3 separate regions of the Homo sapiens genome follow, and regions 1 and 3 are each linked to region 2. The links come from fine-mapping of genetic effects on gene expression. A gene starts in region 2. Each other region holds a variant in brackets. All regions are shown on one strand. Distances are from middle to middle. Region 1 has its middle 91 kb from the start of PNPT1. Region 2 holds the start of EFEMP1 (EGF containing fibulin extracellular matrix protein 1). Region 3 has its middle 28 kb from the start of PNPT1.

What was found.
Region 1: its variant is fine-mapped to the expression of EFEMP1 in thyroid (GTEx, PIP above 0.99).
Region 3: its variant is fine-mapped to the expression of EFEMP1 in fibroblasts (GTEx, PIP 0.98).

The regions. Positions count from the first base shown.
Region 1 is chr2:55,780,740-55,788,927 of GRCh38, forward strand. No RefSeq gene overlaps it. Among named protein-coding and RNA genes, the nearest start is that of PNPT1, 91 kb to the left of the region's middle. The variant C/T (reference allele first, on the strand shown) is at 3,233.
Region 2 is chr2:55,919,660-55,927,847 of GRCh38, forward strand. EFEMP1 (EGF containing fibulin extracellular matrix protein 1) reads right to left here and starts at 4,123. Exons shown (of 12, transcript NM_001039348.3): 1 at 4,052-4,123; 2 at 3,240-3,280; 3 at 2,701-2,788. The coding sequence starts at 2,781. RefSeq lists an enhancer at 3,683-4,182.
Region 3 is chr2:55,717,270-55,725,457 of GRCh38, forward strand. No RefSeq gene overlaps it. Among named protein-coding and RNA genes, the nearest start is that of PNPT1, 28 kb to the left of the region's middle. RefSeq lists an enhancer at 6,305-6,806. The variant A/T (reference allele first, on the strand shown) is at 4,812.

The DNA.
Region 1 (8,188 bases), 140 kb before region 2:
ACCAATGACCTTTTTGCACTAAAGGTTACTGTCCCCTTCTTTAACTAGGCAGTTTCATCTTCCTTCCGACTATGGAAAGCTTGGGTGCTTTTGTTAGTGCTATTTGAGGGAGGAGGTACCCACAAAGTCAGTTCCTGTCTGTGGCAAGTTGAAGTTAGAGATCACTGTTGTTTGGTGTCCAATGGGTGACAATGCCAAAATTCAGAAATAGCTGGCAAAGTCCCTGCCTCCTAGTGGGAGCCTAGAGGCTGGTGGCTTGGTGTTCTAGCTTCACCAAGCTAGAGTTCAGCTCCATTATACATCAAGGAGGATTTTGTGGTCTGATCTGGAAACCTAATATCCCCTCATGACATTATTTTAAAGGGAGAATGCAACCAGAGTGCCAGATAATAAACCTTTAAGGAAATTTTTGGAACTTAATGCCTCCTTAAAATAAGACAGAGTTTCACTTTTAAAAAATTCCCTGGAGAGAATCAGAAAACTTTTTTTTTGAATTATTGGGCAAAATCTAATACTTAGCCAAGGGCAATTGATTTTTATATTTTCTAAATTTTCTATAATGAATATATATTTTTTATTAAAATTTGTTTTTAGGAGAAAGGAAAGACATTACAAGGAAAAGGAAGGCCATTACAGGGAATATAATAACATAAATATAATAAATTATATAAGGGCCCATTGCAGTAGAGGCAAGGGTGGGAAATGTGCACACTGCAAGGAGCGACTCACATGTGATACTGAAAATCATTGGTGATGCCCTCAGCCTCAGCCTGAAAAGGTATGGACACAAATGAACAGATTAGCAACCCAGCTTACACTGATGTGGTTTCTTGAACCTCAGCAATAATCTTTCCTCTTGGAAGTGACCCACTGGACAATGCAGAAGGTGGCCAGGGAATGTATTTGCAATCAGGCTCTGCCCTGGACTCATTTTACCCTCTTCATTTCTGTTCCGCCACTGAAGCTGCTGAGTACAGATGCTGTCATTTTACACTAGGGGTCCTCTTTTTCCATCATCTCTTCTAGACATTCAGAGGATTAATAGTGAGTCAGATAAAATCTTTTGAGGAACCTGCTAGTTTATAAATGAAAAAGAATTAAAACTATCTCTAATAGTTTGCATTCCTACAGCACTTTATAATTATCAAGTATTTTTGAAATTACAAATTTAATGTACAATACATATAACATAAAAGTTACCACTTTAACCATTTTTAAGCATATAGTTCAGTAGTATGAAGTACATTCACATTGTTGGCAACCATCACCACCATCCATCTCTAGAACTCTTATTGTCTTACCAAATTGTAACTTTGTACCCATTAAGCAAATCTACCAAGTGTTTTCTTACACATTATTTCATGTGCTCTTCTTGATATCCCTGAAAGTGGGAGGGAAGATATTATTAGCTCAGTAGAGCACAGTGGTTAGTGGGGCAGGCGCTGGAATAAGACTAGCTGGTTTAAACCTTGATCATCAAGTATTGTTAACAATAGAACCTATCTTGCCAGGTTGTTGTGAGGATTACATGAGATCATTCATAAGGTGTTTAGAACATAGCTATAATCATCCCCATTTCGCAGATAAGAAAAGTAAGACTAAGAGACCTTGAACATTTGCCAAAACTCACAGAATTAAGAAATGCTAGCCGGGTGTGGTGGCTCATGCCTGTAATCCCAGCACTTTGGGAGGCTGAGGTGGGCAGATTACGAGGTCAGAAGTTGGAGACCAGCCTGGCCAACATAGTGAAACCCTGTCTCTACTAAAAATACAAAAATTAGCTGGGCCTGGGGGCCTGCGCCTGTAGTCCCAGCTACTCAGGAGGCTAAGGCAGGAGAATCACTTGAACATGGGAGGCAGAGGTTGTGCTGAGCCGAGATACCACTGCACTCCAGCCTGGGCAACAGAGCAAGACACTGTCTCAAAAAAAAAAAAAAAAAAAAGCAAGTGGGAACCTGAATTGTGGTTGATTCAGTGTTCTTTCCTTTATACCCGTTAATAATTAATTAAGTCCCTGCTCAATACTGCCCACAGAAACACTTTTGTGTTCCTCAAAAACATGTAAAAATCTAGATTTTAGGCTAGCAAAAGGAGGCGATTTCACTTAAATATGTTTTGTGTTTTTGACTTCAGAGTCAAGGCCTTGCAAATTTCCTTATCAACCCTGACATCCCTTGGGAGGTGCTGACAGCACTGACCTCAAGGCATGTTGTGAACCCAGGAGAGCATGAGCTGGGGATGGGGAGATTACAGGAAGGTAGATGAAGTCAAGCAGGAGTGACAGAAATTTGGTCCAGCTCCAAGCTGGTATTGGAGGGCCAAGGGGAGCCTCCTTCAGGAGGATTGGCATAGGAAATAATTTTAAATTGCAGAATAGAAATGCTGATGGAACAAGGCAAAGCAGGCTTATGCCAGGATGAGGAATAGGGTAGGATCCAGGCCCAAGGCATAAGTTTGCAGAGATGTGTGTGTGTGTGTGTATGTGTGTATGTATGTATGTATGTATGTATGTGTGTGTACCTGATCAGGTACCTGGGATATAAGGCAGGAGTCTCTCCTCACCCTCCTGCCCCTCTCTTTATACTAGTGTCTGGGGATTTGAGAAAAACAGAGGAACTTCTCCACCATTACCAGAGGCTGGGTAGAAGGGGGCAGAAAGGTGATCTGATCGCTCTCTAGTTCAGAGGTTGGTGAGGATGAGAAAGAAAGGCTGCTTTTGATAGCCTTTTGAAATGCCCAAGCTTTGGCTCTGAGGCATTAGAGTTCTACCAATTATTTCCAAATTCCTAGGGTTTAGGTATTTAAAGCTCTTGGTCAGGGATTACAGGAATGAAGTGGGGTGGTGTTTATATAGCTGAATGCTCCCTCCAGAGCTGGGATGAGGCTAGGACAGGAGAGGAGATGACACAGGTAAGACTTGCAAGGTGAACTACATATTTCCCTACCCATGTCTCATTGTTTTCCCTCAGAAATCATCTTCATAAACTACTTCTTTCTTTTTCACTTTCTTTCTTTCTTTTTTTTTTGAGAGGGTGTCTAGCTCTGTCACCCAGGCTGGAGTACAGTGGCGTGATCTCCACTCACTGCAACCTCCGCCTCCCAGGTTCAAGCAATTCTCTCTGCCTCAGCCTCTCAAGTAGCTGGGATTACAGGTGCCTGCCATCATGCCTGGCTAGTTTTTGTATTTTTAGTAAAGATGGTGTTTCTCCATGTTGGCCAGGCTTGTCTTGAA[C/T]TTCTGACCTCAGGTGATCCTCTTGCCTCGGCCTGCCAAAGTTCTGGGATTACAGGCGTGAGCCACAGGGCCCGGCCTACCTCCTTTTTTCTGTAGTATTAACCTGTTTTTCTCTGTGGCACATTTATTTTTGCATATAAGCATGTTCAATATTCTCAAATAATATGAAACAAACAAAGTCAACAAAATAACCCCTCATCCTTGGCTCCCCATCTTCTTTAAAGTTGCTGTTCATTATTCTTTTCTCCTGTATGGTCACACTTCTTGAAAGAGTTGTCTCCATTTTCCAGTGCCCTTCCTCACTTCTGAGTCTCACCTCAGTCCACTATAACCTAGCCTCTCACCTTCCCCTCCATTGAAACTGCTACTGCAAATTGCAAATGTTCTCCACAATCCCAAATTTCATGGCCGTTTTTCTCTTTTTTTGATGATAATGACCGGGCTTCTGTTTTTCACTACTCTATCCTCATTACCCACTAGCACATGCCTGGCACATAGTTGGTGCTCAATAAATATTTTTTGAATTGAATTGATCTCTCTGTGGTGTGTGACACTTTACCACTGAAGGGGATTAGACTATGCCAACCCAAAATATGCCAGTTTGGCACAGGGATCATTTTCAGCTGAAGAAAATGGAGAATCAACAGATGCAAAATGAAGTCCTTCTAGAGTTCCCATTATCTGACTAAAAGCAGAAACTTCTGAGAACTGAGGATTGCCATAAATCCCCTTTCTTGGGCAAATTTTATGACTGTGAGGAAGACGGCAAGTTGGCACCAAGATGGACCTGCACAAACAAAGCTTGATAAGATAGCCCTTATTTTCCATTAGTTTTCTCTATATATTTACCTCCCCAGTTTGCAGCCCTTAGAAGCCTAAAAACTTTCTTCCTTTGTCTTGTGCCATCTCTGCAATTTATCTTTCTTGTTGTTGTTAAAAACGGTATATAAACTCTCGTCTGAGAGAGTTTGCTTCTTCGTTCTTCACTTTTTTGGTAGGAAGATCCCTGTGTCATATAAAAGCTACGCATCAAATACAATTCATATGCTTTTGCTCTCCTGTTTGTCTGTCTTTCACCAGTTTAATTTGTAAATAAGTTGGGCATGGTGGCACGTAGAGATGGGGTTTCACCACATTGGCCAGGCTGATCTCGAACTCCTGACCTCAAGTGATCTACCTGCCTCACCCTCCCAAAGTGCTGGGATTACAGGCATGAGCCACTGTGTCGGGCCTCTCAGGCTTCTTTTTAATCTCTTCCCTTGGCTTGTTCCCTAAAGGTCAGTAGACTACAGGGTCTGTTTTCTGACCTCTGCTTTTCTCAGTCTGTAGACTTTCTCTGGATAATCGGATCAAAAGCCATGGCTTCAACTATCTGCTCTGAGATCATTATCTTCCAAATCTATATCTGCAGCTCAGACCCTATAGTCCAATTACGTGATAGAAATCTCCAGTTCGATGCCTGCCATGTACCTCAAACTGAACATATTCAGAACTGAACTCATCATCTGCCCCCCTCAACCTGCTCCCCTTGTAAGTGATGGCTCAGTGAATAACACCCACCATGCACCCAGTTGTCCAAATCAGAAACCTGCAGCTGTGTTTCCTTCTCCCTCATCTCTCACATCCAGTAAGTCATGGAATCCTGACAATTGTGCCTCCTTAATGGCTCTCAGACCCATCTCTTTTTCTCTAACACCACTGCCATTTCCCAAGTCCAGGCCACCATTGTCTCTCCTCTCCATTATTGCACTGGCCTCCTCACTGCTCTCCTTGGTATCTGGCCTTCCTCAGCCTCATTGCCTCTTCTCCATCCTTCTTGGCATGAATAACTCCTAGTCATTCCTCAAGTGCCACTCAATGTCACTTCAATTGGGAAGCTTCGCTGACTAAGCCCTCCCCACCCATGAACCCCAGGATATATTGAGTGTGTCTGCTATATGTGTTCCAAGCATTTAACTTGTCTTATTATAATTGCTTGTTTAATTGCTTAACTGTACCACCAACCCACTAGATTGTAAATACTCTGTTTTTCCCTGCACCTATTTCTAGCACCTTGCGCAGGGCCTAGATCATATAGTATGTAGTAGCACGCAGCACATGGTAGATACTCAAAAAATATTTGTTGAACGAGTCAAAGAAAATACTCGCTAAACTGAAGAACTACCATTTTGTAGTTCATCTAAAAATAAACAAGGATCAGTGGTTTAGCAAATAAATCTATGGTGTATGTGTGTGTAAACCTCCCACTCTCAGTTCATGTGGTTGATGAACCTCAACTATGTAAGTGAAACCTTATTTTCCAAATAAAAATATTCAATGTGAATGGCAATGTCATAATTTTTGGTGCTCATGGCAACAAACAGCTCAACAAATAAAATAAGCAAAGAAACAAAGGTAACAAAACCCCATTTATTCATCCAGATCTTTTCTGTTTAACTCTGCAGTCTTAACAGTTCAATAATTCAACTGCAAATTTGTTAAGATTCATTGCTTTCCAAGTCCATCACATGCTCAGGCTTATTTGCTTGTCTCTTTCTGCTGGGAAACTATTTGTCTGTGGAGTAGCCCAGAAAACAACTTTTTTTTCCATGTTAATTACTCAAAGATTAAGAAAGGTAAAATAAGAGTTATGTAACAGAGGGTTTGTTTTGCTCCTAGGATTACACAGTAATGAACATGCATATTTATCCTTGGGAATGCTTACAATGATATTATCTGAATGATGTATTCTCTTCTTGTATCCCTATGAATAAGGTACTAATTTCCATCTTCCCGTCCGCATTAAATAGTCTGAGCCCTCTTGCACCTGTAATTAAAATTTTGAATTATCTGCTATGTATAGAGCACTGTGAGGATTGCCAGAGCAGTTAGATGTGTCCTATATCCTTGATCCCTTTGGAAGAATGTGACCCAAACCCTCATGAAACACATAGGAGAGGGTATGAGAAGTAATTGTAACTAAAGCCTGTCAGGCCAGAGTTCCTTCCTACTAATCACGAACCGGTGTTTTTGGACTTAATATAATCACTTGGGTTAAACTTGAATACTTAAGTCTAAAGGTGAATGTTGTAAAAAATGAAGAGTTGGGGCAGTTGCTTTTTTTCTACAGTTGTAGTCTCTAGAACTATGGTTGTATAAATATTTTTATAGTATTACAGCATGCACATAAATCTACTTTAAGGAAATAACTTCATTCCTTCCTCCCTTCTTTCTTTCATTTTATAAAAAAATTAATATTTTCCTTTTTTTTAAACATCAAAGTAACGAGTACAAGTTTAAAAAGTCAAATAATGCTAAGAGGCTTACAGCAAAAACCAATATTCTCTTAATCCCTCCACCTCAAATTGCCTCGTCCTTCTGAATACTCCTACCTCCCTCAGGTAAACATTTTCAAAATCTTCACCACTTCTAATATCAAAACACTGTGCGAATACTGCTATTGCCTTTTTAAAGCATTATTTATTTTGGCCTTTTTATAGCTCTTTTCTTGAATCCATTCTTTGTGAAATAGTACCATCATAAATTTTGGTTGAATCTATACTCATCAATTTATTATAACCATTTTGTAGTTAAATATGTACATAGTTTGTATGTGGGAATATATATAATATATGGTTTGTACTGAGTATATATAATTATATATACTATATAGTATGTATATAATTTGTGCTATATGTATTATCTATATAGTTTATACTATATATTTATACTACTTAGTCATAATATGTGCATACAGTTTGTACCATATATATATTATAATATAAACTATGTATAGTTTATACTGTATATACTATGTAAAGTTTAAACAAGCTAAAGCATAGTATATATGTATATGTAGTATATAATTTATGCTATAATTCAATTTCTTATACAATTTCTGTTTTCTTGGAGTTAATAATTTTTTTATTTTTTCACTTGCCTGGTTTTTATATTTTTGGAAACTACAAACTTCTTTGTAAAGTAGTTCTCATTACAGCTTTCTACATGGTAAAATTTGTAAGATAATCTGCACATTCCATTTAGGAGGAGTTTATTCTTACCTTTTGTACTTGTGTTTCGATTAGGATTGGTTGCTTTTTGAACCTGCTACACATGTTTATTAGGTCTTCGCTTTGATACCATCTTGAGAATTCTCTTTATTTTATTTTATTTTATTATTATTATACTTTAAGTTTTAGGGTACATGTGCACAATGTGCAGGTTAGTTACATATGTATACATGTGCCATGCTGGTGTGCTGTACCCACTAACTCGTCATTTAGCATTACATATATCTCCTAATGCTATCCCTCCCCCTTCCCCCACCCCACAACAGGCCCCAGAGTGTGATGTTCCCCTTCCTGTGTCCATGTGTTCTCATTGTTCGATTCCCACCGATGAGTGAGAACATGCGGTGTTTGGTTTTTTGTCCTTGCGATAGTTTGCTGAGAATGATGGTTTCCAGCTTCATCCATGTCCCTACAAAGGACATGAACTCATCCTTTTTTATGGCTGCATAGTATTCCACGGTGTGTATGTGCCACATTTTCTTAATCCAGTCTATCATTGTTAGACATTTGGGTTGGTTCCAAGTCTCTGCTATTGTGAATAGTGCCGCAATAAACATAGGTGTGCATGTGTCTTTATAGCAGCATGATTTATCATCCTTTGGGTATATACCCAGTAATGGGATGGCTGGATCAAATGGTATTTCTAGTTCTAGATCCCTGAGGAATCGCCACACTGTCTTCCACAATGGTTGAACAAGTTTACAGTCCCACCAACAGTGTAAAAGTGTTCCTATTTCTCCACATCCTCTCCAGCACCTGTTGTTTCCTGACTTTTTAATGATCGCCATTCTAACTGGTGTGAGATGGTATCTCATTGTGGTTTTGATTTGCATATCTCTGATGGCCAGTGATGATGAGCATTTTTTCATGTGTTTTTTGGCTGCATAAATGTCTTCTTTTGAGAAGT
Region 2 (8,188 bases):
GATGCTTGACAAGGAAATAGCTGAATGGAAGCCCAGAGATCCATTTAGATATTTTACTGATGTCTGAAACTTACTGGAGCGAGAACTAAATTCACTTTGTCTCTCAGACTAATTTTTTTCTTGTTTCCCAAACAGTGTTAAAGGTACCACTACCTTTTTCGAAACCCAGGATTCCAACTTTAACATCAGTGCTGAATGCTCCACTTATTTTCCTTCCATCTCTGCTGACTTTGTGTCCATTTCTACCATGTCTACTAAGAAAGGCTTTTGCTGGCCCATGAGTAGGCAAGGCCCCGCATCTCTACATGCTGCATACAGACCCCATGATCTTTCTTGTGCTCTTGGTTATGTTGCTCCTCTCTCTGAGACCTCACAGTGACCTGCAGATCTCTCATCATCACCATCTCTGGGTTCTTCCCACTACCCAGTTCCAGCTGATCTGACCTTATCACCACCTGGATTGGTCTCAGGTGCTTTCAGCTCTAGCTTTTGATTATGCCACTCTCTGACTCAGGTGCCTCTTCAGCCTTTCTAGATCAATCCAACCAAGGTCATCACTTCCTTCAAGAACCAGCACAGAGTTCTGTCTCCTCTAATATGCTGGCACCAACATTAATCACCTCCTTGCTTTTCTATTTCCTTGGCAATTTGTATAATCTGTATAATAGTATCATTTGTCCTTGCTTAGGAACTTTGTAGTTTTCAACACTGTCTTCCCAGGCTAAATTCTCCAAGAGGAGACTGAATTTTCTTAGTAAACAAACAAATTCTTTTAATAGTGATGAGAATTGCTTATGCAGATAGTTGTTGAGTAAACAGCTGAATGGACACCATCTTTAATATGGAAGAGGACTATGAGGCTATTATGTGGATACGAGCCCATTCTTCTGAAAAGTATCTTTCAAGCCAGGCAAAAATGGCAGTTCACTTGAATAATTTGTATGGTAAATAGAGAAGACTTGCAATTTGTTTTAGGTATTTACTTCTAGACATTTAATGTCAGTGTACTATTAAGTAAGCCTAGACTGAGTTTAGCTTCACCACTTGGCTATGTAGCCCTAAGCAAGTTAGACACTCTCTCTGATCTTCAGTTCTACCATTAGTGGAAGGAAGATGATGCCACTTACCTTACACATTGCCGCAAGGATCAAAGGAGATCGTGTCTCCACAGCGGGATACTCAGAAATAGTTATTATCTTGTCCTTTAACCATGAATTATTAGGCATACAAAATTTAAAGGAGAATAGGCCCAATCTTAGCACAAAAGGGTAACATATCTGGAAAATTTGTTACAATAATAATGAACCCTAGTTAGTGGTCTTAAAACTATCATGTTTAAGCCACAGGGAACCTTCTCTGGTAAAAATGAGGAAGATTTAGGTGATTAGCAAAGGGAAGGGCATAGAAGATAAGCAACTGGAAAAGAAGTAAAATCTTTTATGAGATGATTATAAAAGTGGGTAGTGAATTTAATTTTAGCTCCCTGAGAAGGCAGTAAGTTTAGTCTGAATAACAAAACATTTTCATTTTAAGATAAACAGCACATGCCTTCATTTTTCTTGCTTAATTTATCTTCAGCAGAGGAAGCAACTGCATTTAACATGAAGTTAACAAAATATTTGTATTAAGCTATTTTATTTATAGTGGATCTGAACAACAGAAAGGAACATTTGCCAGATGAATACTAACATTCTAGGGATAATGTGGTACCAAAAAGTGAGATAATGTTTATTATCAGTAATTGACATTAGTTCATTTTTAAGAGTTTTCTTTTCAAAAATTTTTCACATTCTTTCGAGTAGGATTACTTAATTTTAAACTGGGAGCAGTAGAAAAATGTGCTTTTCATATTCCAATCCAGGACAAATGTCATTTGCCTAACACTGATTAAAGACAAGAAAACACAGAACAGAGGTGCAAACAAACTCACCAGAAGTGAAGTCAGTACTGTCCTTCTCTGTTCTCACCACAACTATTTGTAGCAGTGGGAGGGGTCAGGTGATCTTTTTAATATTTTATTAAACATTGGTTACACCTATGCAACTAACTAATCAAATATTACTTGGAAATATCAGAGACGCTAATTAGAAAATGCAAAACGGAGTTGCACACATTACGTTTTAAAACCACTTTAGCCAATATGCATCCTGGTAACACATAAACTGTTGTCTGCCTTTATTTATTAGAATTATCAAGTTATACAAAAAGAATGAATATATAGCCTTTATAAATTCAATAAAGGCCACTTACTTGAGAATGCATGTCATGTACACAAAGAAGGCCATGTGTCTTTATGGTGTTTAACGTTCTTACTTGACTTGAGTCTTATTCTGCACGTATTGGTTTTATCTGCATGTGGTAGGAGTCCAGGTTTTCCAGTTCCTTACACCCATTAATTTGTTGAATGTTTTGGAAACATGTAACTTTCTTTGGTTTTAGTTTTTGAACGGATCCCATTTTTAGCCCTGCACAAATGATTACATGTTGGTTCCTATCTTAGGTGGTGAGCCCAATGAACTTTTGAAAGGATCAAGGGGGCAATTTACAACGAATCTTAGATATGAAGCATGAATGAAGTGTTGTTTAATTTATCACCCTCAGCAGAGTATAGCCCAAATACACTGGCAGGGGTGTGTAAAGTCTTTTTTTGTCACAGAATCCCGCTGAACCGTACTTATTTCAAATTCCATCACCCCTTACCGTGTACGTGATGGTTTCTTCGGTGTCCTGTGACTTGACCAGCGCCAGAGTCAGCATAGTTAGGAAAAGGGCTTTCAACATTGTGAATCTCAAAGAAAATACAGGACAAACTAATGTTTAGTATCTGCTGCGGGGAAAGTAACAAAACTTTAGCAGTGAGCACAAGCGAGGAAAGGAGGGTGGGAGAGGCTGAGGCTCCACCATACTCAACTTCCAATCTGCTTTCTCATCTCCCCTCCCCCTCCTGAACCTTCTCGGTAGCCAACGAACGAGGCAGCAAAGACGTAAAAACTGCTGTAGAATTGCATTTCACGTTACTCCATCCTGCTACGCTGTTTACATACAAAAGACATTCAGCGTGCATTTTATACTGCACCTACAAAGCAGGCTGCAGAAAGAGGGGGTCGAAAGGAAAAAACAGTAATCCATTTCAAAGGGGACGGTGCATTTCCTGCCCCCCAGTCCCACACCCCGGGGGATGGAGGTGGGGCTGCAAAACTCTGTTCTCTAGAACGTTAAGGCTTTCCCAGTATACTCACCTTGAGCTAGCAGAGTTCCTTGCACAGCACAGCAAAAATACCTGTGAGCCAATATGAATTGCCTTGGCCTCAAGCTTTTTATTTTTTAAACAAAATAACAAAACAAAACTCGGAGAGCAATCTTCCAGTTCTAGTAGAATACTAGACCTTCTCACATGTCTCAGAGCTTCTCACATCCCCCAGCACAAACTCTCAAAGTGGCATTTCCACGCCTTTCTCTGCGCACAGCTTTGTTTAAAAGTCCCAGGTTGTGTGGAGGGGCAGCCCAAAGCGACTGATTCTCTTTTGTCTTATCAGTCTGGGTCCCCGACACGCTACCTTCGGTTTCAGGCTGCCTAGGACCGGAACCAGGGATCGCACCGCAGCCCAAGGTACCAGTTTCGGGCGGGCGGCCTGGCCCGGCAGGGAGATGAGGTCCCCTTTCTTAACAGCAAGCTAACGCGGCGGTCCCCTGGAGCTGCTCAGCGTCCCAGCTTCTAACCAGCTCCTATGGAATCCAGGTGCGGCTTAAATCTCGCACACTGGTCCCCTAAACTTTCAAAACCACGTTTATGGGCAAAGCCCTGCCGGCTGGTTGTCGGCGCGCACACACATGCCCATCCCAACAGATGTCACCCGAGTACTCGCACTTGCTGACAGATCGCATTCCGAGGCTGCACACCTCCACCTCCCTCTCTGCCCGAGACACCCTGCACAGTCCAGGGCAGTTCTCGGGTACTCAACACCCCTCAGCTCACCCCACCTCACTCTCCCGCGCGCGGCCCAGTGAGTACTGGGCTCGCTCGGGGCGACCCCCCGTTGGGGGCTCCTACCTGTGCGGCCGCGCTGCGCTCCGGGCCCGGGCAGCGAGGGGAGTGCGCAGGGGAGGGCAGCCCCGTGGGTCTGATCTGGCGAAGTCCGGCAGCGGCCGCGGCGGCAGGAGGAGGAGGAGAAAGGGAGGGAAAGGGGGAGGGCGAAGGGGGGCGGAGGAGAGAGCTGAGGGAGGCGCGAGCGCTGAGCCCAGCGTTGCGAGCCCGGCGGTAGAGCGCGCAGCGCAGCGAGGTCCGCGCCCCCTGCTCCAGGGGCCCTCTTTGCCGCCCCCGCTTGCCCTCCCTTGCCAGCTCCTCGTTTCCCAGACTCGCGGGGACCCCACGCCAGAGAGGACACGTTGACATGTGATGTCCTGGATGCGCTTCAGCCTTGGGGATGCTCCCACTCTCTAGTGCGTTTTCTTCTTCTCTGAGGAGGGGAACACAGCATCTCCCTCAGAGACCAGAGGGTTCTAGAAACTGCTGTTACTTTTTTTCCCAATAAGTGAATGCTAGGAGAGTAAATTAACCCCCATTCATAGAACTGTTTCCTTTACCTTTTCTTTCGGATTTTTTTTTTTTTTTGAGGAGGTGTCTGCTTCCACAAATGGAGAAAAATGAGAATTCATCCATTCAACAAATATTTGCCACCTACTGTGTGCTTAGTGTTGGGAATAGGCCAAATAGAACTTGCACTAACAAAATTGTGAGGTGGGGTTTGTTTTATGGTCTCTCAAACCTCCCTTTATGATAACAAGTGTTGGCAAGAATGGAGAAAAGGGAATGCTTGTATGCTGTTGGTGGAATGTAAATTAGTACAAACATGATGGAAAATTGTATGGAGGTTTCTCAAAAAACTGAAAGTAGAATTATCATATGATCCAGCAATCTCATTTCTGGGTATTTACTGGGAAGATTTGAAATCAGTGTGTTGAAGAGACGTCTGTACTTTCATGTTTATTGCAGCACTATTCACAATTGCCAAGATATGGAATCAACCTAAGTGTCCATCAAGGGATAAATGGATAAAGAAAATGTGGCATATATGTGTGTGTGTATACAAATATAATATATATTATATATATAAACACATATATATATAAAATATGTACACACATATATTTTAGATATATATGCGTTTTTAAGGCTAAATAGTATTCCATTGTGTGTGTGTGTGTGCGCGCGTGCATGTGTATATGAGCCCATTCTTCTGAAAAGTATCTTTCAAGCCAGGCAAAAATGGCAGTTCACTTGAATAATTTGTATGGTAAATAGAGAAGACTTACAGTTTGTTTTAGATATTTACTCCTAGACATTTAATGTTAGTGTACTATCAAGTAAGCCTAGACTGAGTTTAGCTTCACCACTTGGCTATGTAGCCCTAAGCAAGTTAGACACTCTCTTTGATCTTCAGTTCTACCATTAATAGAAGGAAGATGATGCCACTTACCTTACACATTGCTGCAAGGATCAAAGGAGATCGTGTCTCCACAGCGGGATACTCAAAAATAGTTATTATCTTGTCCTTTAACCATGAATTATTAGGCATACAAAATTTAAAAGAGAATAGTATTCCATTTTATGTGTCTGTGTGTATGTGTGGAATACTATTTAGCCTTAAAAAAGAAATTCTGTCATTTGTGACACCATGGATGGAAGTGGAAAACATTATGCACAGTGAAATAAGCCAAATGTAGAAACACAAATACCACATGTTCTCAAGTATCTGAAAGTAACTTAAAACAATTGAACTCATAGAAGCAGAGAGTAGAATGGTGGTTACCAGAGGCTAGGGTTGCAGGGAATGGAGAGATAACAGTCAAAGAGTGTAAGCCTCAATTAGATAGGATGAATAAGGGTTGGGTGCAGTGGCTCATGCCTGTAATCCCAGCACTTTGGGCAGCCAAGGTGGGCAGATCACCTGAGGTCAGGAGTTCAAGACCAGCCTGGCCAACATGGAGAAACCCCATCTCTACTAAAAATACAAAAATTAGACACGTGCCTGTAATCCCAGCTACTCGGGAGGCTGAGGCAGGATGATCGCTTGAACCCCGGAAGGCAGAGGTTGCAGTGAGCTGAGATCATCCCTCTGAGTGACAGAGTGAGACTCCATCTAAAAAAAAAAGAGAGGAAAAGTTTGATTTTTTTAAAGTTCAATTGCACGGTGTCGTGAATAAAGCTGATAATTGAGTACTGTATATTTCATTATCACTAAGAGAGTAAATTTCAAATGTTCTCATCACAAAAAATGTCAAATATTTGAGGTGATGGATATATTAATTAGCTTGGTTTAATTATTACACATTGTATTAAAAAATCATAACACCTTGTACCCTATTAATATATACAACTATAATTTGTCAATATATAATAAAAAGTCTCCCTTTTTATGGGTTTCTTTTTTCATCTATAGCTTCTCTTTTCTTCACTTATTGACTTAGTGAAATCTCCAATACTGCTCATTCAAAGTTGGGCATTTCACTTTCACCTTTCATAGTGGAATTTCAGGAATCTGGAGAGAAAAATCTTTTTTTCTGTTTTTATCAAATCATACCACACAAATTGCAGTTACCTCTGAAGGCTCCAACTCTAAAGTCATACTAATAGCTTGCTTCCAAGGCAGCTGTCTTCTAAGAAGCAAATGGCCAAATACAATTTCATGAATGAGAAAACTTACAAACTGAAGGGGTTAAAACTTTGACTCTGTCCTTGAGCAGGAGGCAGAGCTCAGGAGGAGAGGAAAAGCTCCTTTCCTTTCCTGCTGACTCAAGGTGGGAGGGTGGTAGCGACTGCAGGAGAGGGAGGTTATCAGGTGGAAGCTGCTCTCTTTATCTCTGGGGTATCCAGTGTGGGTTACCTAGACATTGCCAGTTTGGTAGCAAGCCACACAGTATTGGACAAGATCAGAGGGGAGGTGTACAACCCTCCCTAAACCTTACTTGAGTATACAGAGTTTTGGTAATTGTATCAAATATTTTTACTATCAAAATTCTAGTGTTTTCCCCCAAGTCATTAATGACCTCCAGATTTTTTTTAAATGGATCTTTACTTTTTGTACAGTAAGAAGATCTGTGCACATGGTTTTTCCTGTTTCTCTTAAACTCTTTCTACCTGTTCCCAGCCACTTTTCCAGAAAAATGGGGTGAAAACTCTCAAATTTATATCTCCAGCCTGGAACTGTTCCTATATATCCAGCTGCCAACTTGCTATCTTCATTTGGACATCTAATGGATGTTTCAAACTGAACACAACTGCTGTTATCATCCCCCAACCTACTCCACCCACCTTCACCATCTCAGTTAAAGCAGTTTCATCTTTCTATTTGCTCAGATTCAGGACCATGGAGTCATCCTTGATTTCTCTTTTTCTGAGATATCCTGCATTCTATCCTTCAGGAAATTCTGTTGGCTTCACCTTCATGATATATCCAGAATGGAACCACTTCTCATCACCTCTTTTGCAACCACTCTGGTCTAAGCCACCACCATTTTCCAACTGTATTATTGCAACATCCTCCTAATTGGTCTCCTTGTTTACAACCTTGTTCTCCTGCAGCCTTTTTGCAGTGGGAGTTCATATGAATGAAATCATAGAGTAAATACTCTTTCGGGTCTGACTTCCTTCACTCAGCATGTTGCTTGAGATGCATCCTTGTTATTAGGTGTATGAGAAACACATTCCTTTTTATTGCTGAGTAGTATTCCATTGTATGTATATACCCTGATTTGTTTGTTTACATCTTAATAGATACTTGGATTGTTTATGAATAAATCTGTTACGGACATTCACTTCTAAGTCTTTGCTGGGATATGTTTTCTTTTAGATAAACGCTTAGGAGTGAAATTGCTGTCATATGGTAGGGGTATGTTTAACAGTATAAGAAAGTGTCAAACTGTTTTATAAAGTGAGTGTGTTATTTTATGTTCTTACCAGCAATATGTGAGATTCAATTTGCCTGAAATCCTTGCCAACTTCTGGTATTGTCAGTAATTTACAATGTTAGCCATTCTGGTGGGTGTGTAAGTGGTATTTCACTGTGGTTTTATTTTACATTTCTCTGATGTCCAGTGATGTTGAATTTTGCTTTTCGTATGCTTATTGTCCATCAATATATTTTATTTCAAATTTGTGTTCATTTCTTTATTTTTTGGTCTTATTAGT
Region 3 (8,188 bases), 200 kb before region 2:
TAGAAAAATTAAAGGCAGAGAGGAGTCAGGACACTACACCAGGATGCCAGAAACAGGAATGGAGAGGAGGGACCAGTGACTAAGAAGAGCGGGAAATTATTGCCTTTGAGAGTGTGGCTCAGGTCAAAGGTTAAAGATGGTTGGATTACAAGGGATTGAGAAGATGGTACTGCCTCTATAGAAATAAAGGCGTCTAATAGAAAAACAGGTTTATACTGAACCCCTAGATCTGGCTCTGAACATTTAGGTACGTGCTGTACTAATTTGAATCCAGAGAGATCCATGTAGTGGGTCAAGACACTTTACAAAGTGCAAAAGTTAGCTTTACGAAATGTCAAGTAAATGGAAACAAGGCCAGTTCTTTCTTTTTCTTTCTTTCTTTTCTTTTCTTTTTTTTTTTTTTTTGAGATGGAGTTTTGCTCTTGTTGCCCAGGCTGGTGTGCAATGGCACGATCTTGGTTCACTGCACCCTCCGCCTTCCAAGTTCAAGTGATTCTCCTGCTTCAGTCTCCTGAGTAGCTGCGATTACAGGTGCCCGCCACCACACTGGCTACCTTTTTGTATTTTAGTAGAGACAGAGTTTCGCTATGTTGGCCAGGCTGGTCTCGAACTCCTGACCTCAGGTGATCCACCCTCTTTGGCCTCCCAAAGTGCTGGAATTACAGGCATGAGCCACCGTGCCCAGCCACAAGACCAGTGATTTCTACAAAAGTCTTATGTGTTTTCAAACGAGACCAGCATAATATTTACAACTTGAGGTAATCTCAAGAGTTCACTAGAATTCTATATTAATAAATTAATAGATTGTTAAAGTGCTTTGGATTCTATAATGTAAGTAAAGATACTTTCTGCCATCATAAATAATTGATTGAGGCAAGCAAGAATCATCAATGGATGCTTAAACTAGTGGGTGAAAATTCGAAGAGTAACAGATATTTACACGATCTAAAATTTAGCTTTCTTCCATTTTTCTTCATATTTGTTTTTAATGCACAAACCATTCGCCAGCTTCAAAGAGTTAAAAGAAAATAATGGAAATCTCATTTATTGTTCAGCATACTGGCAGCCTTTGGACACTAGGAGAATTCATTTCCCACTAGAGGGCGCTCAGGTGTTGCTTAATTCACCTCTTCAGGTTTTTGCGACCTCCTTTGTAACTCAAACTGTAAAATGGAATTTTAAGTTTTATATTTGTGGGTGAACTTAACTAACATTTTAGGATTAATGTAGCAACAACATTTTAAAGCTTTGGGGTTCATATTAAAAATAATTACCCAAATGACAGCAATCAAAACTCCCTCCAAAAATAAAAAATAAAAAATAAACTTCCACCATCCCCCAAATCAATTGTTTTTGTTTTCCAGCAAACATTTCTGGTCCTGGTTCATCGCAGGTTTGAGAGGCACGGTTTCTTCTCCATTATTTACCTACTCTAGAACCACTTTATAGAAGGTGGAGGTGGGGTGGGTTGGCCAGGGTGAGATAAACTCTCAGTTTCAGAATGTGGTGCAAGGCGCTGACACTCTTGTGAGTCCTGCCTTACATTAGACTATGCGAATGGTTCTCAAAGTGGCAGCCCCCCCACCAAGCAACGTCAGCATCACCTGGGAACTTGTTAGAATGCAAATTCTTGGGCCCCACCCCAGACCTATTGAATTAGAACTTCTGAGGGTGGACCTATTGGTCTGTATTTGAACAATTTCTCTGAGTGATTCTGATGAATGCTACCGTTTGAGACCCACTAAGCTAGATACTTGGTTTTTACAGGGCAAACTGCTTTTGGGCAATCAGAGCTCAGGTTTTATCGGTTGGTGCCCTCTCTAAGAATCAGGAACAGACTCCCTCCAGGCTAGGTCTCAGACCCTTAGGCAAATGGCAGTCAGGGTCAAGGTGGTTTTCTACCTGCTTCAAGTTTCTAAAGAGAACTTGTCTTTCACCAGTCTCAGCAGGGGCACCAGTCCATAGACCATTCACATATAGACGGCACCATGAGAGTCAGTTAAGAATTTATGGCCAGGTGCAGTGGTTCACGCCTGTAATCCTTGCACTTTGGGAGGCCGAGGTGGGTGGATCACCTGAGATCTGGAGTTTGAGACCAACCTTGCCAACATGGTGAAACCCCATCTCTACTAAAAATATAAAAGATTAGCCAGGCATGATGGCAAGTGCTTGTAATCCCAGCTACTTGGGAGGCTGAGGCAGGAGAATCGCTTGAACCTATTGGGGTAGGGGGTGGAGGTTGCAGTGAGCCGAGATTGTGCCATTGCACCCTAGCCTGGGATTTTCTTTTAATCCCAGCTCTCCCGCCTAATAGGACTGACTGTGAGCAAGTTACTTAACCTCTCTTTAAATTTCACTTTCTTTCTCATTTGTAAAATATGGGTGATAATAATCATCTAACAGAGTTAGTGTGAGAGAAAGGAATACAATCAGAAGGTAAATTGTGGAAATAAGGCACCATTATCTGTATATTACTGTTCCAGGAAATGCTGTAGTTATAGGGTAGTTCTAGCCACATGATAGGGCTAGATACACATTAGTTCCCTTTCTTGCAAAGCTTTGTACCTTTTGAGTATTCAGGACCCTTTTAAATTGTCAGAGTGGGCTGGGACTGGTGGCTTATGCCTGTAATCCCAGGACATTGGGAGGTCAAGATGGGAGCATTGCTTGGGCCCCGGTTTTCAAGGCTGCAGTGAGCTATGATTGTTGCCACTGTGCTCCAGCCTAAGCAATAAATAAATAAATAAATAAATAAATAAATAAAATGAAATAATAAAAATAAAATAAAAAAATAAAAAATAAAAAATAATCACAGTGAATTATGTTCTTGTACTGTTTACTTCCAGCTTCACACTCCAGCTCCTGGATATCTGGAGTGGTTGGGAGAGGGTTCTATTTTCCCTCCTTTTCTCACACAGGGGTCTTTTGAGCCAGATTTTTTATTCTTTTCCCCTCCAGATCACAAAGCTTATACTTTTATTGCAGAAAATCTGCAATATTCAATAAAGCATAAACAAGGAAATGAACATCACCAGTCCTTCTCCAGAAGAAAGCATCATTAATGTTTTGGAGTATTTCCTGCTAGACTTTCCCCCCTCTGCTTATATAAAATTGCTATCATAACTCACGTTCAATTTTCCTTGCTGCCTCAGGGCTTCTTTAGATGCGATTCTCTTGGCCGGGCACGGCTTTCTCTGGCTTTGGTTGCTCCTTCTTTCCCTACCCTTTCCTCCCATCCCAGCCCACCCGGATGCTTCAGATAAGGTGAGGTCTCCCTGCTAGACGCTTTCAAAGCGTGCTGTGCTCACTCTGGACAGCGTTCCTCATGGTCTGTAATTATACATTTACCTATGTGATGGTGTGAGTTGTCTCTGTCCGTGGCTGAACTGCAAGCTCTGGGAGAGTAGGAGCTGTGTCTGATTTACTCACAACCGGATGCCAAGTGCCAGCACAATGCTGGACACATAGAGTGCCCGCAACAAATCATTTTTGAATGAGTGAATAAGTAAATGAAGAATTTTGTAAGCATTTTTTCCGCACTGGACATGATTTTATTTTATTATTTATTTATTTTGGGCGTGATTTTAACTGGTGGATGTCCGGGGATAGATGAGGTGTTCTCTCAGGATTTCAGATAACTCCATGGATGTCTGAAGCAGCCTGTTATGGCGGAAGGATTCCTGTTCTGGAACTAAAGAAAACCGCGTCCCGCTTTTTGCTTTACCAGTTCCTCTGATCTCGAGCAAGTGACTGAGCGTCATTTTCCTTAGTTACTCTGCTTCTCTCCCAAAGAATCTCACACATTAAATAAAAAAGTGCATGACAAAGCCCTTCTCAACTGCAAAGGTCCATAAAAATATGTAGAGAAGGTTGTTCAAAAGATATTTTGCTTTATAGATAAATGGAGCCACTTGCTAATTAAATTTGCACTGAGGCACTAACTTTGAAACTTAAAATTGATTGTTTCCAAGACAATCTCCCGTTTCAAAGCTTAATAATTAGAAATAATTGTGAGTCTAAATGTCTTTACTAGCCAAAATACATTAACTACTACTTTATTTCTTAAGGGCAGACATTGTAGAGTTTGTTTCCATTTTGTAAAGATTGCAATAAATAATTATGATATGTTGTGACAATAGAAACTTAGATTTATGTTTCTTTCAAATTTCATTGTGCTGAGGTAGTCAAGATATTTTTTGACAGACTAGCCAATGAATGTAAATTACATAGATTATTTTAAGAACAAACCTTAGTTTTAAATTTTTTCTTTTTTTAATAAAGTAAGCTTTTTACTGATGTATAGTGTACATACAAAAGAGTGCTTAAATCATCAGCATTTTGAGGGATGTTCACAAATGAAATAGGCCTAATGTAATCAACAGTAAGATAAAAAAATAGAACATGCCCAGTATTTAGAAGCCCCTCCCCCTATGCCTTTCCAGATATCACCCCAGGAAGAAAACCTTTATTCTGACTTCTGTCGTCAGAGACTCGTTTTTCTGGTTTTAAGCCTTTACAAATGAAGCCATACACTGTGTTGTAACCGTTTATGCTTGGCTTCTTTTACTCAAAGTTATTCATCCATTTTGTTGCCTGTAACAGTAGTGTGTTATTCTTTTTTCTTCTTTTTTACACTGCAGGAATATGTTTATTTTTGAGATCTATTGCGCATCATGATGAATATAGTTAATAATAGAACATTGTACATTTCAAAATTGCTAACAGTGTACATTGCAAATGATCTCACCCCAAGAAATGTTAAATATGTGGGGTGATGTATATGTTAGCTGGGTTGACTCAATTATTTCACA[A/T]TGCATTCAAAGACCATAATAGCACTTGGTATCACATTACATATATAGAATTATAAATGGTCAACTTTAAAATTTTTCTTATTTATATTTATTTATTTATTAATAAAGACCGGATCTTGCTATGTTACCCAGGCTTGTCTTGAACTCCTGGGATCAAGTGATCCTCCAGTCTTGGCCTCCCAAAATGTTGGGATTACAAGCCTGGGCCACTGAACCCACCCAAACCCTAGTTTTTGAATATACTCTATACCTTATTCAACAAGAAAGGAATATGGTAAAATTTGGAATTTCCAAAATGGAGCTAATATCTTTGTGATATGATTAATATTCATATTTAAAGGTTGGATGAAAGAAAGTTTTCCACCAAGGTCTTGGATGCCAAGAATTAGAATAAGTAACCCCTATAACTAAGTTTTTTTGATTGATTCTGTAGTTTTCCATTGTATCTTAAATAATTTCCTTTCTGTTTTAGGTTATATGATGGTGCTTGAAATGTATATACATTGAGGACATAAAACATCTTGGAGAACAGATAAGAATTGAAAGTATGGTAGAAAGAAAGACCAGTCTCTTACTATCTGTGAAAATTTGTGAGTTCATGGATAAAATGAGGCAGTGTTTGCTGATTTTATCTTTTAATAACTCCAACACACTCTACTGAAAAAGAAACATTTTTCTTTTCTTTCTTTGTAACACCAATTAGTAAACACATAGCATTTTAGAAGAGGAAAATACTTTAAAAGTTCATTGTCCTTGTTTCATAGATAATATCTAACATTTACAAAGAAATTTACAATTGCTTCCAGATAACATGATTTCATAGAATCCTGAGAACTCTATTATTACCCTCAATTTAAAATGAGGAAGTGGAGACTCAGAGGACTTAAATGACTTACCTAAGGTCACAGAGATAAACATAATAATGATGGATAATATTAATTGAGCACTTACTCGATGCCAAGCCTTCCTCATGCATGATCACATTTAATCCGCAGAATATTCTTATTACCTCTTACATAATATGTGACAAGCTAGCATTATAAATCTGTGCTAAGAAACTGGCATAACTGACTTTTTTTCCTGGATGCTCTTCTATAGACACAACCTAAATATTAAATAAAATCAATATGATTTTATGTATTTAGGATAGTATCACATTGTGTATGTATGATGTTGATTGGTTAAGTAAATAGTATTATAGTATTCTCATTTTACAGATGAGATATTATGGACATGGAGAATTAAAGACTCCCATAGTAGTACTGTGCTAGCTGACACTGATGAGCAGAGGCAAGAATCCAGTTCTTTTCACCACACTAGCTTCCTTTTCTCTGAGATGTGTCTCAGAATGTGGAGTGGGCAATTGGTGACTTGGATCCAAAGCTAAGGACAAAGAGGCACCAAGAATCTCACATTCTGAGTATTGCAGGCCAAGTACCTCCTCCAGGTTTAGTAAGAGTCAGGCAAACTGACTGGGCATTCCCCTAATCATCGTCTGAGACTCAACCACTTCTTATGCCCAATCCATCTACACTTTTGACTAGACAGGGAAGACAGGCATGTGATGAGAGTGTCAAGTCTTTGGTGAAAAGTACAGTGGCTCCTGCTTTGAAGCCAAAGACTGGGTGCCCTGAGGACCATCTACAGAGAGTGGGATTAAATGAGAAGAATGACATCTTATTTCTTAGCTCACACCAGCTGATCTGACCTCAGTGCCTGTGAGAGTAAGGGAATGGAGAATTGAGATAATGAAGCAGAGAGAAGTGAGGCAGTGGAGCAGGCTGCACCCATCTGGTGCTATGACAGTGCTGTATGGGTATTCCAGGGGTCAAGAAGCCACCATGGAAGTAGCCGGACTTGATTTGACCTGCCAGTACTCTACTCAAAAGGAGTTGGGGGGAATGCCAGGGGAAGCAACTGAGGGTGTAGTAGAGGAGCTGGGTGGAGGGTGCTCCCACAGCAGGAAACTCTGCCCTGGGGAGACTCCTGCAAGTCCCCAATGTAGCCCATGGAAGAGCCAGTGTTGGGACACCCACCACACAGAGACTAATCGACATCACCAGCCAAGAGAAGACCACAGCTGCAGCACTGAATGAGACACTGTTCCTTTCTATCTCTGCATCTACTACAAGCCACCACCCCCAAAGCCCACAACTCAAGAGGGAATGAAGGTGGAGACTGTACTCCTTTTCCATTTCAGGTCCTGGCCACAAATGCCTGAGCTATCTACAGGAAGGGAGGATTGGACTTCTTCATTTCAAAGCTGTGAGAGAGCTGCGCAGAATGTTGTTAAGCGGTGAGAAAGGGAGGTTCAGTGGAGCATGGTTAAGGTAGTAATTGGGGGAAAAAAGGATACTTTATACTTGCACTCTACTGAATTCAGGTTGTGTAGAATAGACATTACATATGCCTCTCTCTCTGTATATAAATATAATAACCAATATTTATGTATAGCTTTGCATCCTTTTCAAATATGCAGAAAGTCTTATGGGATGATATTATCAGGAACCAAGTAGCATTTTAAAAATTATTGCATATCCAAGTGATGAAATTAAGGAAACATGGGCCAAAAAAAAAAGGTAACCTCCTCTTTTCTTCTGAGTTTTCCTTTTGCCCCAGCAGATGTGTTGGCATCTGACCTGCCGGGATGCTAAGACATCCTGACTGATAGACCATTAGATTCAATCAAACAGTCAGTATTCAATTAGTACCTTCCATGGCAAATACCATAGGAATGAAAGAGTATATAAAAAATGGTCCTGGCCAGGTACAGTGGCGCACACCTGTAATCCTAACACTTAGGGAGGCTGAGGCAGCTGGATCACTTGAGTCTAGGAATTCGAGACCAGCCTGCACAACAGGGTAAAACCCTGTCTGTACAAAATATACAAAAAATTAGCTGGGCTTGGTGGTATATACCTGTAGTCTTGGCTACTCAGGAGGCTGAGGTGGGAGGATTGCTTGAACCCAAGAGGTCGAGGCTGCAGTGAGCCATGATCATCCACTGCACTCCAGCCTGGATGATGGAGTATGATCCTATCTCTCTCTCTCTCTCTCACACACACACACACACACACACACACACACACACACACACAGTTCCCTGCTTTCAAGGTGGTGACACTCTAGATAAACGTACACTCATTAAAGATAGGGCAGCATATGACAAGTGCCACATGAATCAAAGTGACAGCAAAGGTAATGTATGGCTTTAGATTACCTAGAGACCCTCTTGCACTGGTTGCCTGACTGGAAAAGGTGAGGCTCTAATGGTGCCATGAAGGATGGGTGAGAATAAGAGTGCAAGGCTAAAGGGCTGCTACATGAGCAAATGAGCAGAGACCAGCGTAGCTGGGAAGTCACATTTGGGGACACTG